Regions from separate parts of the Homo sapiens genome. Here regions 1 and 2 are each linked to region 3. The links come from fine-mapping of genetic effects on gene expression. A gene starts in region 3. Each other region holds a variant in brackets. All regions are shown on one strand. Distances are from middle to middle.

Region 1 (6,009 bases), 35 kb after region 3:
TGCAGAGATGGTGATGAGGTGGTGACAACCATGTAGTGGGGTGGAAGGGGAAGTTTCCAGGAAAGAGGGCTCCGGGCCAAGGATCCAATAGAAGATGGGGCATGCCGGCCTTGGGCTGGCCATGGAAGCAGAGAGGAGTGAGATGTGGAAAGGAGAGAGGAAGAATTTTCAGGGGGGTGAAGACATGGGGACGTGAGAGAAACCACTGTGGCTGGAAAGGTGGGCATGAGGGAGCTTCAGATTGTTGACCAAGGAGGCAGATGTGTCCTCTGATGGTGGCCTGGCTGGAAAGCCGGGTGAGGGGTTTCACTGTGTGTTCAGTCAGGCAAGAAACAATAGGGCCTGAGCCAGGAGACCGAGTGGGGCTTCAGGGAGTGATGCTGGCCTCCCCGCGGGCCTGGGAGCCACTGTGAGCCTGACACGTCACCCTCCCCTGCAGATGCTGGGTGCGGAGCCCCGTGGTGCACAGTGTCCTGGTCATGGGCTACGGCGGCCTCACGTCCCTCTTCAACCTGGTGGTGCTGGCCTGGGCGCTGTGGACCCTGCGCAGGCTGCGGGAGCGGGCGGATGCACCAAGTGTCAGGGCCTGCCATGACACTGTCACTGTGCTGGGCCTCACCGTGCTGCTGGGAACCACCTGGGCCTTGGCCTTCTTTTCTTTTGGCGTCTTCCTGCTGCCCCAGCTGTTCCTCTTCACCATCTTAAACTCGCTCTACGGTAGGGCTGGAGGGCGGCCTGGAGGAAGCTACCTGGCAGGGGGTGTATGGCTGGTGGGATGTTCACTGCTAAAGGGGTTCAGGTGAAGGGGGCGAGTGGGGGACTAACATCCAGCCCACAGCTCCACTAGCTAAGCTGGTGGGGGCTACATCTGCATGAAGGTACCCTATGGACTGGCCACAGCAGCTCTTCCAGCTCTGAGGCTCTGCCCCTCTGGCCTCCTACAGTAAGAGATTCTGGGAGTTGCCCATGGGCCCCAGGGAGGCCAGCTCGCTGCAGCCAAGGAGACCCTGGCCTTTGGGGAAGCCCATGCTGCCCCGTGGAACTCCCGCCTTTCTCTTGCAGGTTTCTTCCTTTTCCTGTGGTTCTGCTCCCAGCGGTGCCGCTCAGAAGCAGAGGCCAAGGCACAGATAGAGGCCTTCAGCTCCTCCCAAACAACACAGTAGTCCGGGCCTCCTGGCCTGGAATCCTCAGCCTCTCTGGCCGCCAGTAGCCTGAGGCTACGGCTCCTGCTAGAGAGGGTGGCAGGCCTGCTGCTGGACCCCAGAGGCCACTGTGACCGCCAAGGGGCCTTTTCCACTTCCACGGCCTCTCCAGGCACTGAGGGGAAGGCATTGCTCTACCTCTCCCTGACATTTTGCTCCGGGGCAGATCCAACCTTACCTGGGGCAGCAAACTTTGTCCTGGTACCTGGGCCCAGCTCGCCAGGGATGTGGGCAGAGCACCAGCCTGGGCATCAGGAAGCCAAGTTTCAAGGACTGTCTTTGAGTCTGTCTGTATGACCTTGGGCCTGCCACTTCTCACAGACCCTAGGTATCCACAGCTGTGACATGGGGGCAAGCGGCTTTGTTTCAGCCTAACCCAGGAGCTTAGTAAAAATTGCATAAGACCAGGGGGAAGAGTGTCAGCGTGGGGTGGGAATTCCCGCGGCCTCCACCTGCTTGCTAGGGGCAGGATCTCATTCAGGCTGCCCTGGAAGCACCTGCTTGGCCCTGCCACCTTCCTCCAGGGGAGGGCCAGATGGCATCCTGGCTTGGGGCGGGTGGGACCTACCCAGGCTCTGAGACTTTACTGGCCTATGCCTGAGGCCTCTTTTCCTTTAACTCCCTAAATTATGATGACTCCAAGTCCAAGCCCACCCTTCCCAAAGATTGGGAGGTTCCGCCGTTCCCAGAGGCTCCTCCTGCGGTGCTCCCAAGACTTCCATAGACCATCTGGACCAGTAGCCCATCCCGCAGTTTTCTTGGGGGCAGAGGAAAACGCTTCTTTCTCCTCCAGCTGAATCAGCTGGATCCCAGTGTCCTGGCTGTTTGGTGATTGGGCAAGATTGAATTTGCCCAGGTAGGCGTGAGAGTGTGGGTTTTAAATTCGAAGCTCAGGCCATAGTTTCAGAGAATCACCCTTACCCCAGACCTTCATGAGACAGTGCTCATGAAGCCAGTGCGTTTCCCAGAACGAACACTAGGCGGCACCGTTGGTCCACACTCAGAGGCCCTTGGCGCCAAGACTGCATCTAGAATCGCTCAAACACCTGTTTGCAGACCCCATGCACCAGCTGGAGGGGCCGTAACTGCAGGACTGCGCCTACTGAGTGACCCATTTCCTCCAGGAGGAAAGGCAAGACACGCTTACACGGCCATTTGTCTCTTTTCCCAATGCGGCGGTGCACTTTCGCTCTTGGGGGCTGCACCCCAGACATAGCTGGCACCAGAGCAGGGTGCTCAGGTGGTGGGTGCTCAGGGCCCTGCCCCAGGCCACTGGGCCGTTTTGATGACCTCGAAGGTCACAGGC[A/G]GAAAATAGGAGCAGGATTTCCCCTGGGGAAAAGTTCTCCTGGGACATCTTCTGCTCTTCTGTACATTTCTAGATGCAAATAACTCCTTCACCAGGCAGTGAGTGGCGTAGGCTCTGGAGCCAGGCTGCCTGGGCTCCAATGCCAGCTCTGCCACTTGCTAGCTGTGAGACTGTGGACAAACCACTCAGCCTCTGTGTGCCTCAGTTTTCCTATTTGTAAAATAGAGGCCATAGTGGTACCTATTTTGAAGACTAAGTAAAAGAATTCAAATAAAGAGACTTGGCACAGAGTAAGTGCTCAGTAAATGGTTACTGGTATTATCATTAGTATTTTTGCTATTATTGTTAACAGTGTTAACTGAGTTTCAGAGGCCAGCCTGTCTAAGCCCCAGGCCCAGCTCTGCTCAACCTTGTAGGCACAACCCCTTCTTAGGCACATCTCACCATGCCTCAGTTTCTTTCCCCAGACGGGTCTCTACTCCCACCTCGCTGACTTTCTGCTGTTCTAGGAATAGTCCCCACACAGTGCAGCCTCCAGGCCATGCCACATGTCCCCCGACCTCCCAGTTCCCCAATCTTCCGGTCTATAGAAATTCCTGGTGGTCATTTATCACATCTACAAAATTGCCCCAGCGGTGCCTAGAGAAGGCCTCTTTCCCACGCTAACTCCAGGCAGATTCTCCCCACCCCTGCCACCATCTGGGTGATGTGAGCACCCATCCAAGCTCCCATGGTTAAGCCCAGGCTCTCCAGGCCTTGGGGCAGGGGGTCCCCTTGCTAATGAGGGTCCCGAGGAATTATGGGAACCTTTAGCCCTTCTCTTGGGCAGCCCCAGGGAGTGGGGACACAGGCTCCTGCTGTGGCTGGGTCTGCATAGAGCCCCCCAGCCCAGGACCCAGCCTCTCAGACCCCACCAAGCCCAGGGCTTGCCCGAGGGAGGATGTGGCCACAGCGACACGGGAGGAGACTGGCAGTTCCAGGAAGCAGCCCCAAGCTTGTGGCCCTGAGCCCCACTGGGGTCCAGGCCCTGGGCAGGGACCACTTCCTGGAAATGTCTCACTGGGTGTGGGGGAGGGACTGAGGGAGATAGTGTGGAGCCAGGCAGGGCCCCTCTTCCCCCTTCCTCTCTCTCCCAGCAGAGCCCAGATGGGGCCCTGGGGCCAGCTCTTGGGAGCTTCCAGACTTAGCAGGAGGATGGAATGGGGTGGAGTCTGGGGGCTGTTGTTCAGGGCCAGGGACTCAGAGCAGGCACTTGGTGAACGGATGCCATGTAAATGTCAACAGGACCACAGATTAGGAGATTTCTGTGTGTGGTTTTGTTAGTGTTATTTCAGAAAAGGGTGTGTGCATGTGTGTGTATGGGGGGGCTATTGAAAATAGGGTTGCCAGATAAAATATCAGATGCCCAATTTGGGAGACGTACTAAAACATTATTCATTGTTTACCTGGATTCACATGTAGCAGGGTATCCTATTATTGATGTATTTTGATTTTGCTAAACCTGGAAGCTCTAATGAGAAGAGCATTGGCTCAGGAGTCCGGGGTGTGGACTCTTCACTCTCTAAATCCACCCAGGCTGTGCTGAGGGGGAAGCCCCTCTGCCCACTGGATGAGTCCCCCTCATTCACAGCCCACTCAGCTTGAGGTGTTCCTATTGCCAGCCAAAGCCACCACCAGAAATCCCAAGGGGTCTGCCTTGGGTGTCCCCACCCCTGCTGTCAGCCCTGGCGCAGACCTAGCCCCCATCCCCTGTAGAGGCGCCATGGACCTCCCTGCCTCCCCACTCCCAATTCCAAATTCACCCAGAAGCCAGAGGGTGTTTTCCATCCTGCAGCCTGCCCGTGTCCACCCCTGCGGAAGCCCTTCCACAGCACCCCCTCTTCATTGCCACACTCCCCAGTGGAACTTGAAAGGCCCACGGTCCGGCTTGTGTCCCCCTCTCCAGCCGTGTCTTACCACTCCTTCCCCCTCCTCCTCGGTGCTGCCACACTGAACAGCTTTCGGTTCCCTGAACAGGTTCTTTCTCATCTCTGGGCTGTTCTCTGTCTGGAAGGCTCTCCCTGTGTGTCTCATTTGTGGAGTGATGGCGACACATCCTTCAAATCTCAGCCTTGCACATCCTCATTCCCCTCAATGCAGACTTCAAATCTAGGGTGGGGCCTCCTTTCAGCCCCACCACTCCCGCCCTTCCCCCATGACAGACGTTATTTCTTTGTATTATGACTGTCCCCATCTGTCTCAGCTGCCAGACCGAGGGCATTTTGGAGACAGGTGCTGTGTCTCATTGGCTCATTCATTCACCCATCATGTAATTGTTAAACACTTGTTATATTCCAGGCACTGTACTAGTTGCTGAGGATATATAAATGAACAAGTCATCACATTCTTGTGGGGGAGGAATGTCTCACACTAAACAGTTTAACAAATAGACATAAGATATGACAGGTGGCGACAAGTGCTGAGAAGAAAAATTGAGGAGGGTGAGGGAGTAGAGTGGCCAAGAGCCTGGGTTTCAGCAGAGGGAGCTGGAGAATGAACCCAGGGGCGCTGGAGCTGGGGGCGTGGGAGAGTGTCAGAGAGCTGGCATGAACTGGCAGGTTGCCTGGAGGGGAGGGCTGGTTCCAAAGCCAGTCTTATAGCAATTTTTCCATTTCTTGATAGTGAACTTTGGAAGAGCTAGGGGTGGGGAAGATGGGAAGTTGAACCACCTCTGAGATAAAACTCTCTGAGGGGGCTGAGGTGGTCCTGGGTTGGGGTGCCCCCTGCTACTGGCAAGAGAGAAGCAAACTCAATATGGAGGTAAGCTTCCCTTGGTTAGGCCAGGAGGATGCCCAGAGTGAGACGAAGCAATGGGCTTCAATATAAAACTTACCCAAATCACAAAGTAAGCCACCGAGTGAGAGTCGGCAGAAAAGAAGGAAGCAACAGATTTTAGACCCCAGGGACGGAATACAGAATAGCCATATATGACACGTTTAAAGAAACACAAGATGCAATCGCAAAGATGAGCATATAAACGAATAGAAATGAAGAGAGACAGAGAGATTTGGGGGAAAACAAATGGAACTTCAAGAAATAAAAAGTATTATCTCAAGTTGGATGTGGTGGCTCATGCCTTTAATCCTAGTGACTCAAGAGGCTGAGGCGGGAGGATCACTTGAGGCCAGGAGTTTGAGACCACCCTGGGCAACATAGCAAGACCCCTGTCTCTATAAAAATCAAAAAAATTAGCCAGGCATGGTGGGGCACACCTGTAGTTCCAGCTACTTGGGAGGCTGAGGCGGGAGGATTGCTTGAGCCCAGGCGTTTGCGGCTGCAGTGAGCCGTAGTCACTCCACTGCACTCAAGCCTGAGTGGCAGAGCAAGACCTTGTCTCTACTAAAAAAAAAAACATAAAAAACTCTCAAAATCTAAAATTCAACAAACAAACAGTTGAATAGAGAATTAATTAGCCCAGCGTGGTGGCATGTGCCTGTAGTCCCAGCTACTCAGGAAGCTAAG
Region 2 (5,000 bases), 65 kb after region 3:
AGCCTCCGAACATTTTAAAATGAAAACGCCCTCTCATATTCTCACTCTGTGCACTTTGCTGTTGGTGTGACAGGGCATTTAAAGATGTTTCTGGGCCGGGTGTGGTGGCTCACGCCTGTAATCCCAGCACTTTGGGAGGCCGAGGTGGGCGGATCACCTGAGGTCAGGAGTTCGAGACCAGCCTGGCCAACATGGCGAAACCCTGTCTCTACTAAAAATACAAAGATTAGCCGGGAATGGTGGCGCATGCCTATAATCCCAGCTACTTGAGACGCTGAGGCAGGAGAATCGCTTGAGCCCAGGAGGCGGAGCTTGCAGTGAGCCGAGATCACGCCACTGCACTCCGGACTGGGGAACAGAGTGAGACTCCGTCTCAAAACAAAACAAAACAAAACAAAACAAACAAAGAAACCATGTTTCTGGCATTTTTATAATTTGTAAGATGGTGTTAACTATATGGTTATTGGCTAGAAATCCTGAGTTATCAACTGTATATGTCCATAGTTTGTAAAAAGAATAAAACAACTGAGGCAAGCTCTTGATGCTTCTTGTCTGGCATTGAGGCTGTGGGGAAGGTGCCTTTTGGAGGGGCCATAGCTGAGGGCATGCACCGTGACGCTGGACCGGTTCACTGTGCAGTGGGCATTCATTTAGCTTCAAGTTGTCTTGTTTCTGTATGTGGTGACAGCTTTCTGCTGCCATTCTTAGCTAAAGGCAAAGATGGGGGGGTCAGCTGGCATGAGAAGTGTTTAGTTTTTGTTTTGTTTTTTAGTTAAGTGTGGTGGTTTTTAAACTGTAGAACTCTTCATTGTCACTAAAGCAAAGAGTCACTGCAATGAAAATTCAGGAACCTTCTGTCCTTAAACACGATTTGCAACATTCTGTTATTTTTTTTGTATGTTTAGAATGCTGAAATGTTTTTGAAGTTAAATAAACAGTATTACTTTTTTTTAAGTTGGATAAAGGATATAAACATTTGTTTCACAGGAGAAGAAAGAAAAATGGATGATGAAGTTATGAAAAGATGCTCGGTTCCACTCAGAATTACAATAGGCACACTAAAACAATTTTTTGCCCATCTAGAGAGATCACCTCCACATTGGAATGGATATGGTGGGACTCTAAATTGGTACTACTTTTTAAGGGGGCAATTTAGCAGTGTCTATACCTTTTTTTTTTTTTTTTTGACAGGGTCTTGCTCTGTCACCCAGGCTGAAATGCAGTGGTGCCATCATGCTCACTGCAGCCTTGACCTCCCCGGCTCAAGTATCTGTACAATTTTTAATTGCACAATTCTATAACCTAGTAATCCCTCTTTTAGGTATCTTTCCTTTAGAAATAGCCACACATGTGCCAAAATATATATGTTAATTACTGCAAAGTGTATTACACTAAAAAATAGGACCCCTTAATTTCCTTCAATAGAGGGTTATGGCTAAATAATTTTACATTCTATGCAATGGAATTCTTGTACTAATGAAAAAGAATGAGATGGAACTATACATTCTAAGCAGAAATGATATCCATTATAACTTGGCAAGAGAAAGAAAAGCGAGTTGCAAACACTGTGTATAGCATACTAATTCTATTTTTGTAAAACAATTGCATATATGAGTTACAGGGATATATAATAATCATGTCTCACAATTACTGAATGTTTACTGTGTAAACCAGGAGCATTGAATTATTATTACTCCCATTCTACATATGAGAAAACAGGAACAGAGTGGTTAAGTAATTTGCCCAAGGCGGCACAGCTGGTAAGTTACAGAGCAAGGATTTGAACTCTGGCAGCCCAACTCCACAGTCTGAGCACTTAACCCTATACATGGCCTTATAGGCCAAAAATACTTCTGTTAACAGGGATGACCTGGAAAATCAAGAGTGGAGGGGCAGAGTCACTTTTTAATAAATACTTCTAAATAGACATTAAAAAACACGAACTGGTAAAAAGGACTTATAGTGAAAAGCCCATTTCCTGCAAGCCCCCTCCCCAGAGGCAACCACTTCTAATAGTTCGAGCTCATGTGGCAGTTACCTCCAGAGCCATAAATAACATGCTTCTACTGCCATTTCCTGATTTATTAACCTTGGACATTATCTGTTGACTTCTGCAAACACTCAGAAAAGGAAAAATCAGCTTACCTTTTTTCTCCTTTCTTCTTGTTATGTTGCTTCTTGATAACAGGGCTGTTTGCTGCCACTGGCTCTGGTCTAGACCCTGGGCTGGACACTCGACTGCACAGTTGCCAAGACTAGGCCCACTGAGGTTCAAGACAAAAAAAGGACTTGCCCAAAGTCACTGTGAGTTGGTGTTGGAGGTGGCACCCGGCTCCTGGTCTGCATGGCTCCAGGGCCGGGCTGTCTCTGTGATACCCTTTGGCCCACCCTGAGAGTGACTCT[T/G]GTGCCACCCCTGGCCCACGCGGGCCTCTCTCACTCTGGCAGAGGCTTAGCATGGCTGGGGTGGGTGGCCCTGGCTGGGTTCCTGCTGAGGGCTGGCTGAGGCCTCCTGCTCAGGCAGGGGCAGGCATATTTGCAGAGCAGCAGGTGCAGCCTCCCAGTGTTTGGCCAGCCAAGGGTTTTATTCTCCAACACTGCCAGACCTAGACTTTGACCCTCAGGGACTTCTACACAGCTGGCCTTCCAGATCACTGCCCCCATAGCCTCTATATCTCCAGGGGAAAGGCTGAGCCAGTGGCTGAGACTGGCAAAGTGCCGAGCACCAGATACCCAGGACCCTTAGGGCGAAACCACCAGACTCACATGCCCCAACCCTGCAGTCGCCTGGGGCCATCGGGCGGGTGTGGGGGTGGGGGTGTATAGGGGTAGAAGGAGCTTTAAAAAATTACCAGTGCTGGCCAGGCATGGTGGCTCATGCCTGTTATCCCAGCACTTTGGGAGGAATAGGCGGGCGGATCACTTCAGGTCAGGAGTTTGAGACCAGCATGGTCAACATGGTGAAACCCTGTCTCTACTGAAAATACAAAAATTAGCCAGGCGTGGTGGCGCATGCCTGTAATCCCAGCTACTCGGGAAGCTGAGGCAGGAGAATCACTGGAACTTGGGAAGCGGAGGTTGCAGTGAGCTGAGATGGCACCATTGCGCTCCAGCCTGGGTGACAGAGCGAGACTCCATCTCAAAAAAAAAAAAGGATGTCCTGAAGGCCTCTTCAGCCCAGAGAGACATGGGCTTGCGGGCTGGGGGCAGACAACAAAGAAACACGGGGTTGGGGTGCAAGCCTGGGACTTGTAGGGGCCCCTAGCAGTGAAGAAAGGCTTTGCCTAGCACACGGTGGCCCCTGAGAGGATGCGGGTGGCACCGTCCCCACCCTTGTAGTCCCTTTTCCCAGACATGAGCTCCTGGCAGCTTTATTTGGGGTAGAAGAAGGGTCCTATTTATGCTGTGTCTGCATTTAGAGAGGCTGTTCACTCATTAAGTTACAGACTCTCCACCTTTCTGAACCTTGGTCTCCCCATCTGTAAAATAGGTATATGGTCAGGAATGGGGGTGGGAATTGAGGATTGTGGGAGCCTTCTGGCTTTAAAATTATGAGCCCTGAGGAAGATCCCTGAAAGAGCCTGTGCTAGGTAGGTTATGACTTTGGCTGCTGTAACAAACTCAAGAGTAAGAACCCATATAAACAAGAAGCCGTTTACTTCCATCCCATGCGAGGGACCAGGCTGCACGGTGGCTGTGGTGGCTCCTGGACTTTGGGCACTCATACCCCTTCCCTTTTTGCTCCTCCAAAAGGGTGCACCTCTTTTTTTTTTTTTAAGAGCATGATGCAAGATTTGCAGACTTTACTGATGGCTGCATCCTATTGTTCAGAACTTGGTCATGTGGCCACCCAGTTCCAAGGAATGTTAGGTAATAATGTCTTTATTGTAGGGGGCCATGAACCCAGCGAAAATATGGGGTTCTATTGGTATAGAAAGGGGAGGTGGATATTGAGGAACACTTACAGCTTCTGACATGGAATCTAGAGGTTGCTTGCTGGAGGCCCCGAGGGTGAGATCTAGCCTTAGATAGGCTTTGTTTGGCTTATGACAGGCTTTAAATCCATTTGAATTCATCCCCAACTTATAACAATTAAGATTTTCACATTAATTTCAAATTTCTGGCTTCCTTGAAAAAACTGAAGGATCAGGCCACATGGGGCTCATATTTCCTCAAGTGACAGTTCACTGGAGCTGGGCAGTGCTCCCCAGCGTGGCCCATACTCTCCAGTTCACCCCAGGTCCCCCCACTCCCTATTGTCTCCCACCCTGCCCCCTTCCTGCTCTCATTAGCTTTGCAGCCTGGCCGCTGTGGGCACTGTAGTTTGTGACTCTTGGCCCAGCATAGCCACCAGCTTCTATAAACAAGGAAATTGAGGCACAGAGAAAAAAAGAGACTTGCCCAAGGTCACCCGGTGAGCCTGGACAGAGCTGGGACTGCAGCTGCCGCCTGCACACTCAGCCTCAGCGTATTTTCTGCCGCACTGGTCACTTGAGGATCACCTGGGTGCCCATGTACTCAGGAGAAAGGATGGCCCAATGGTTAAGCCATTAGGTGCTGGAATCTGATGGGTCTGGGTTTGAATTTTGGCTCTGTCACTTTTCAGGGCAAGTAACATCAGCTCTCTGAGCCTTATTCTTTTTCTTTTTTTCTTCCTTTCTTTTTTTTTTTTTTTTCCTTTTTTGGACAACGAAATGGGATAATAATAGAGATTGCCTAATAGAATCACATGAAGATTAAAGTGAGGTGCAGGGCCATTGGCACTGACGGTGGGCACCTCCTTAAATGTTACACCCTAAGTATTTTGCTCATTCCAGCCTGCACAAGAAATCCTAATTCCTGGGACAGGAATTCAGAGACAAGTGGAAAAGCAGAGGGCTTTATCCCCATGCAACTGGGGGATGTGGCTGACCCTTCTGTGCGATGCAGCTCGGTTTCCTCCCTGTGGGGCCACAGCAGCCCCAAATTGCTGAGATCAGTCTGCATGGCAAATAGAATCTGTG
Region 3 (5,947 bases):
ATTCAACCTTTAAAAGGAATGAGAGTCTGACACACTACAACACGGAGGAACCTTGAAGACGTCATGCTAAGTGAAATGAGCCAGTCACGCAAGGACAAAGACTGTATGATTCTACTAAGATGAGGCACTTAGAGTGGTCAAATTCAAGAGACAGAAAATAGAACGGTGATTGCTAAGGGCTTGGGGGAGTAGAGAACAGGAAGTTCTGTTTCATGGGTATGGAGTTTCAGTTTGAGAATATGAAAAATGTTTTGGACATGGGATGTGGTGATGTTTGCATGACAGTGTAAAGGTAGATAATGCCATTGCACTGTACCCCTTTTTTTTTTTTTTTTGAGACAGGGTCTCACTCTGTCACCCAGGCTGGAGTGCAATGGTTCGAACACAACTCTCTGCAGCCTCGACCTCCTGGGCTCAAGCGGTCCTCCCACCTCAGCCTCCTGAGTAGGTGGATCTACAGGGGCACGTTACCATGACCAACTAAATTTTTTTTTTTTTTATAGAGGCAGGGTCTGCTATGTTTCCCAGGCTGGTCTCGAACTCCTGGGCTCAAGTAGTCCTACCACTAGGGCTTTGTCCAAAGTGTTGGGATTATAGGTGCGAGCCAACCCACCTGGTCTGAATCTACACTTAAAAATGCTTAAAATGGTAGCTTTTGTTACATATATGTATGTGTGTGTGCGTGTATATATATATATATCTTACCACAATAAAACATTTAAAAGTCAGACGTCCTGTTTTGAAGTCTAATAAAAGATTGAAAAATGGGGAAAAATAAGGGACATAGTCTGTGTTAGAGAGGGGTTAAAACAATTTAGCCCTCGGCGGGGCACAGTGGCTCACACCTGTAATCCCAGCACTTTGGGAGGCAAAGGTGAGCGGATCACTTGACTTGTCAAGAGATCGAGACCATCCTGGCCAACATGGTGAAACCTCATCTCTACTAAAAATACAAAAATTCGCTGGGCGTGGTGGTGTGCACCTGTAGTCCCAGCTACTTGGGAGGCTGAGGCAGGAGAATAGCTTGAACCTGGGAGGCAGAGGTTGCAGTGAGCCGAGATTGCGCCACTGCACTCCAGCCTGGCGACAGAGTGAGGCTCTGTCTCAGACAAACAAACAAACAAACAAAAAACAAAAGAAACAGTTTAGCTCTAAGCTGAGGCTTTTGCTGGACACAACCAAGATTGAAAAAGATGTGTAAATGACTTTTTTTGCATTGTGACTGTTTATCTAAAGTCCTGTCGGGGTCCCACCTACAATCTTCTTGCAGGCTACTCACCAGGGTAAGTAGCCCCCATATAGGGAGACACTTTACTGAGATGGTATGTGGCCTCCTCCCTGCCTGGGGGCCTGAGAGGAGACTGGCAGGCTTCCTACTGCTCAAGCATCCAGAGTGTTTTGTAGAGGAGCAGGAGGCAGAGAAGCCTTCCTGGAGGAGCAGGAGGCAGAGAAGCCTTCCTGGAGGAGGCAGGATCCAGTGGAGCCCTGATGGGTGGAGAGGAGCTGGAGGGCTTCCCAGGTACATGTGTGGGACCACAGCTGGGACCGAGCAGGGAGGTGGGTATTAATATGGCAAGCACAATCAGACTGGGTGGCAATGGAAGTTGGACGGGGTTAGACTGTGAAGGCAATAGGGAGCCACCACTGGTTTTTTGTTTGTTCGTTTTGTTTTTGAGGTGGAGTCTCACTCTGTTGCCCAAGCTGGAATGCAGTGGTGCGATCTCGGCTCACTGCAACCTCCACCTCCCGGGTTTAAGCGATTCTTGTGCCTCAGTCTCCCGAGTACCTAGAATTACAAGCATGTGCCACCACACCCGGCTAATTTTTGTATTTTTAGTAGAGACGGGGTTTTGCCATGTTGCCCAGGCTGGTCTCAAACTCCTAGCCTTAAGTAATCTGCCTGCCTCCACCTCCCAAAGTGCTGGGATAACAGGCCTGAGTCACCGCACCCAGCCTCACCACTGGCTTTTGAGCAGGAGAGTATCTTGGTAGTGAGCTTCAGGATCAGGAGTGCAGGGCTAAGTAACGGGCACTAACTTAGCCCCCAACTGAAGCAAGGCACAGTGAGGCTGGTACAGACCCAGGCTAGAGGGGCTATGGGGTAGGCAGGGCCTCCTCCTGAGCCCTAAGAATAGCCAGTTGGGCTCACATTCAGCATGAGGAAGGAGGAGGTTGGCATGGCAATCCTAGAGGTAGCTGGGTGACCTCGGAAAGGAAGAGCCTGGAGGTCAAGGTCTGGATCCTGATCAAAGAAAACCGAAGCGCAAAGAAGGGCCAAGGCTTGCCCAAGTCACCCAGAGGGAGTGTAGCCCAGGAGTCAGGACACAGGTGCACCGGTGTCCCTGCAAAACCTTCACCGTGCAGCTGGGGTGGGGACCTGGCTGCCCTCCAAGGAGCAGCTCCCTCCTGCTTCAGCAGAGGCCACTTGTACTACCTGCAAGCTGTATTTGGGCTGATGCGGGAAGGGCCCCAGTGAGGCAGAGAGCGGGGAGACCATGTTAGGACCTGTCTGGTTTCTCCCTTTTGCTGCCTCTCCATCTTTCCCCCAGGGCTGGAAGAGCACATTCCTGAGTCAGTTTTCCCAGGAGTCTGGATGGGGCCCAGGCAAGAGAGAGCACCGTCTCCCCATTACCAACACTCTCTCTCTATCCCCCACACACACCTCCTTGCTTTCCCTTAGAGCTCTTCAGAGGGTATGGCTGATGCAGGACAGGCCTATCCAGCTGCCTGGCTCAAGGAGAAGCTGGCCAGCTTTCCAGCCTCATGTTTTCTGGGCTCTGTGGCCAGGGAGGCCCCTCTCCACCATGCTCTGCCACTTGGCAACTCTGGGCCAGGCCCAGGTCCTCTCTGGGCTTCAGGTCCCTCATCTGTGAAATATGACGGCTTCATAGAGCACTTCCAGTGACTTTGCCAGCCTTACCTTTTGTAAGCCCCACACTGCCCTGCAAGATGGTACTGTCATTATCTCCATTTTACAGAGGGGAAACAGGTTCAGAGAGCATGAGTGGCTTGCCCCAAGTCACCCACCCAGTAAGTGGTGGGCTTGGTACTTGAACCCAGGCAGTCTGACCAAGCTGCTGCCTGAGGTCTTTGCCATCATCAATATGCCATCAATTGTCAGGTCAGGCAGGGATCATTTTCCCTTTTCTATAGATGGGAAAACTGAGGCCCAGAGGGGCAACATGTCTTGCCCAAAGGTGCAGAGCTCAGGTGGGTCTTGCGCACTGCATAAGGCCACGTTGCCATGTCCTTGAGCACCTCCACAGAGGAGCAGCCACCCCAGGAAGTAGCTGCAGACTCTACGGGGTGATACCCTCAAAGGGTGACCAGGGCATGACCGACAGCTCGAAGGAAGCAAAGAGGCTGCTGCTGGTGAAAGAAGAAGTGAAGTGAGAGTGTGGTGCCTGGGCCTGGGGTGAAGGGAGCAGAGAGAAGTGCAGTGGGGGTGCAGGTGTGGGGCAAAGGGAGAGGCCACCCACAGACGCCTCCCGACTTCCCCTTCTTCCTGCAGAAGCTACAAGACAGCAGCCGAGACAGCAGCTGAGACGGCAGCGGCAGCTTCTCAGGTCAGCCTCCTCCGGGCCTCTCCCCACTCTCCTCTGCCCAGTTCTCTGTCCTTATCCACAGGCCCCTCAGTGGGCACTGGCCATACCCATGTCCAGGTGGGCACAGACCTGGTGATATCCTGGTGAGCAAGCTGGGGACCCACCCTCCTTCCCTTTCTGGTTGGCAGCTCCACATCTGGGGCAATGTAGAGATCTGTGCTTTTGGAAGGAGGGGCAATTTAAATTAAGAAGTGGTTAGGCATGGGTCTCGAATCTTAGCTTCCCCGCGAGGTCTGGGACAAGTGAAGAGAGGTTTCTTTTCTGGACCTCAGTTTCTCATCTGTAAAATGGGGTGAGTCTGGGAACCTGCACCTTGGATGGCTGTCAGGGGCTCAGTAGAGGACCTGGCACACAGTTTGTGCTTGGCAATCTGGAGCAGGTGCAGCTCCTTTCAGAGTGACCTGGATTGGATCCTGGGGACAGCATGTCTCAGGTAAATGGACCTGCTGCTGGCTTGGTCACAGACTTCCTGTTGGGCTCCAGGGTGGCCTCTCTTTCCCAACCTGGGAAATAGGGTTACTATAGCATTTCTTAGGGCTTTTTTTTTTTTTTTTTTTTTTGAGACGGAGTCTTGCTTTGTTGCCCAGGCTGGAGTGCAGTGGTGCGATCTCGGCTCACTGCAACCTCCACCTCCCAGGTTCAAGCGATTCTCCTGCCTTAGCCTCCTGAGTAGCTGGGATTACAGGCACCAGCCAGCATGCCTGGCTAATTTTCGTAATTTTAGTAGAGGCGGGATTTCGCCACTTTGGTCAGGCTGGTCTCGGACTCCTGATCTCAGGTGATCCACCTGCCTTGGCCTCCCAAAGTGCTGGGATTACAGGCGTGAGCCACCGTTCCTGGCCTGTTAGTGCTTTTTTGCAGAGACCACAGGTTGATTGATTCCTCACCCAGGCCAGGGGCAGGGGCTCCAGACTGTGGTTGGCAGGGGCAGGTGGGGCTGTGTGCGGAGAATGGCTGGCTCAGTAGGCCTTCGTGCTGCTGGGGAGAGGTGGGCTTCGGGGGTGCATGGTCAGCTGTAGGGAGGAAGGCAGGGGTTCCCAAGCCTTGTGCTCAGATGTATTCCTGGCCAAGGACTTTGATCAGAGCCCTGGACCTTTCTCAGGGCCTGATTCCCAGGAGAGGATCAGGGAAATTGTTGTTTGAATTTCTCTTTCTGGGAAATAGATTTCCTTGGCCTCATTTTACAGATGAGAAAACCTGAGACACAGAGAGGTCAGGTGCCTGCCCAGTGTCACACAGCCTAGGCACTGAATACTGCAACTGGTTATCAAATTCTCATCTTCCAAAGGCTCTGTCCTGTGCTCCACAGCTCCTCATTTCTCTATTGGCCTAAATAGAGTCTTACTTGTCTGCAAAGCAACTCAGCTGCCCAACCATCTTTGGGAGGCTGCAGTGTGCAGGGGGTAGTGCCCTGGACCGTGGAGGCCTGGGTTTGAGTCCCAGCTTGCCCACTGGCCTGCTGTAGAACCTCAAGCAGACTCCTCTTACGCAGTATTCGGTTTCCCCACCATCAACTGGAACCATCCTGGAAGTCAGATAAGGGATTGCTGTTTCCTAGAAGGCCACAAATAATGAATTGCAGGGTGGAGAATGAAATGGCTCAGCGTGTGGGGGGATGGTGCATGGTGACCTCTCTGAAGGGATGTGGAGGGGAATTTGGAGGTTGCAAGCAGAAGTGAAGACTGTGGTTTGCTCCTGGGAAAGGGGGTGGAAACCACAGCTTCTATCTGGAGTGCCTGGGGGAGGTATCACTTCTGCTTTGGCCTCAATTTCTTCAGTTGTGTGGTAGGGTCAGGCTTTTCTTCCCTCAGTGCCTGCCTGGAACCAGTGGGGGTAAGAGCCTGGTCTTACACCTTGCAGGTCAAATCCATCTATCTCTCTGGGCCTCAGTTTCACCAACAGTATAGTGAAGGGGTGGACAAATTGGCCCAAGATCCTTTCTGTGCTGTCAGGTCCTCCACTACTGGGCCTGAGTTATCTCTCCTGAATGAGTTCCTTCAGTAGCTTCTTTTGCCTCCCCAAACCTTTCTGTTTTTTTGTTTGTTTGTTTGTTTTGTTTTGCTTTGGAGACAAAGTCTCACTCTGTCACCCAGGCCGGAGTGCAGTGTCACAATCACGGCTCCCAGGCTCAAGTAATCCTCTCATCTCAGCCTCCTGAGTAGCTGGGACCACAGGCTCATGCCACCATGCTGGGTTAGGTTTTTTAATGTTTAATTTTGTAGAGATGGGGTCTCCCTATGTTACTCTGGCTGGTCTCAAACTCCTGGGCTCAAGTGATCCTCCTGCTTCAGCCTCCCAAAGTGCTGGGATTAAGGCATGAGCCACCACACCCGGCTCCCCCA

Evidence for each region. PIP is the estimated chance that this variant, and not a neighbour inherited with it, causes the effect.
Region 1: its variant is fine-mapped to the expression of ADGRG5 in whole blood (TOPMed, PIP above 0.99).
Region 2: its variant is fine-mapped to the expression of ADGRG5 in whole blood (TOPMed, PIP 0.99).

What each region holds. Positions count from the first base shown.
Region 1 is chr16:57,574,376-57,580,384 of GRCh38, forward strand. It overlaps ADGRG5 (adhesion G protein-coupled receptor G5), which reads left to right. Exons shown (of 12, transcript NM_001304376.3): 11 at 440-717; 12 at 1,063-2,814. The coding sequence ends at 1,163. The region is part of intron 1 of LOC105371291 (a long non-coding RNA gene); the gene reads right to left. Among named protein-coding and RNA genes, the nearest start is that of ADGRG5, 35 kb to the left of the region's middle. RefSeq lists an enhancer at 844-1,013 and a silencer at 2,060-2,129. The variant A/G (reference allele first, on the strand shown) is at 2,509.
Region 2 is chr16:57,604,583-57,609,582 of GRCh38, forward strand. It overlaps LOC105371291 (a long non-coding RNA gene), which reads right to left and starts at 2,440. Exons shown (of 4, transcript XR_933627.4): 1 at 2,146-2,440. It also overlaps the pseudogene HMGB3P32. The variant T/G (reference allele first, on the strand shown) is at 2,404.
Region 3 is chr16:57,539,136-57,545,082 of GRCh38, forward strand. ADGRG5 (adhesion G protein-coupled receptor G5) reads left to right here and starts at 3,508. Exons shown (of 12, transcript NM_001304376.3): 1 at 3,508-3,566. RefSeq lists enhancers at 1-34, 285-334, 355-414, 3,288-3,457, 4,962-5,271 and a silencer at 4,852-4,901.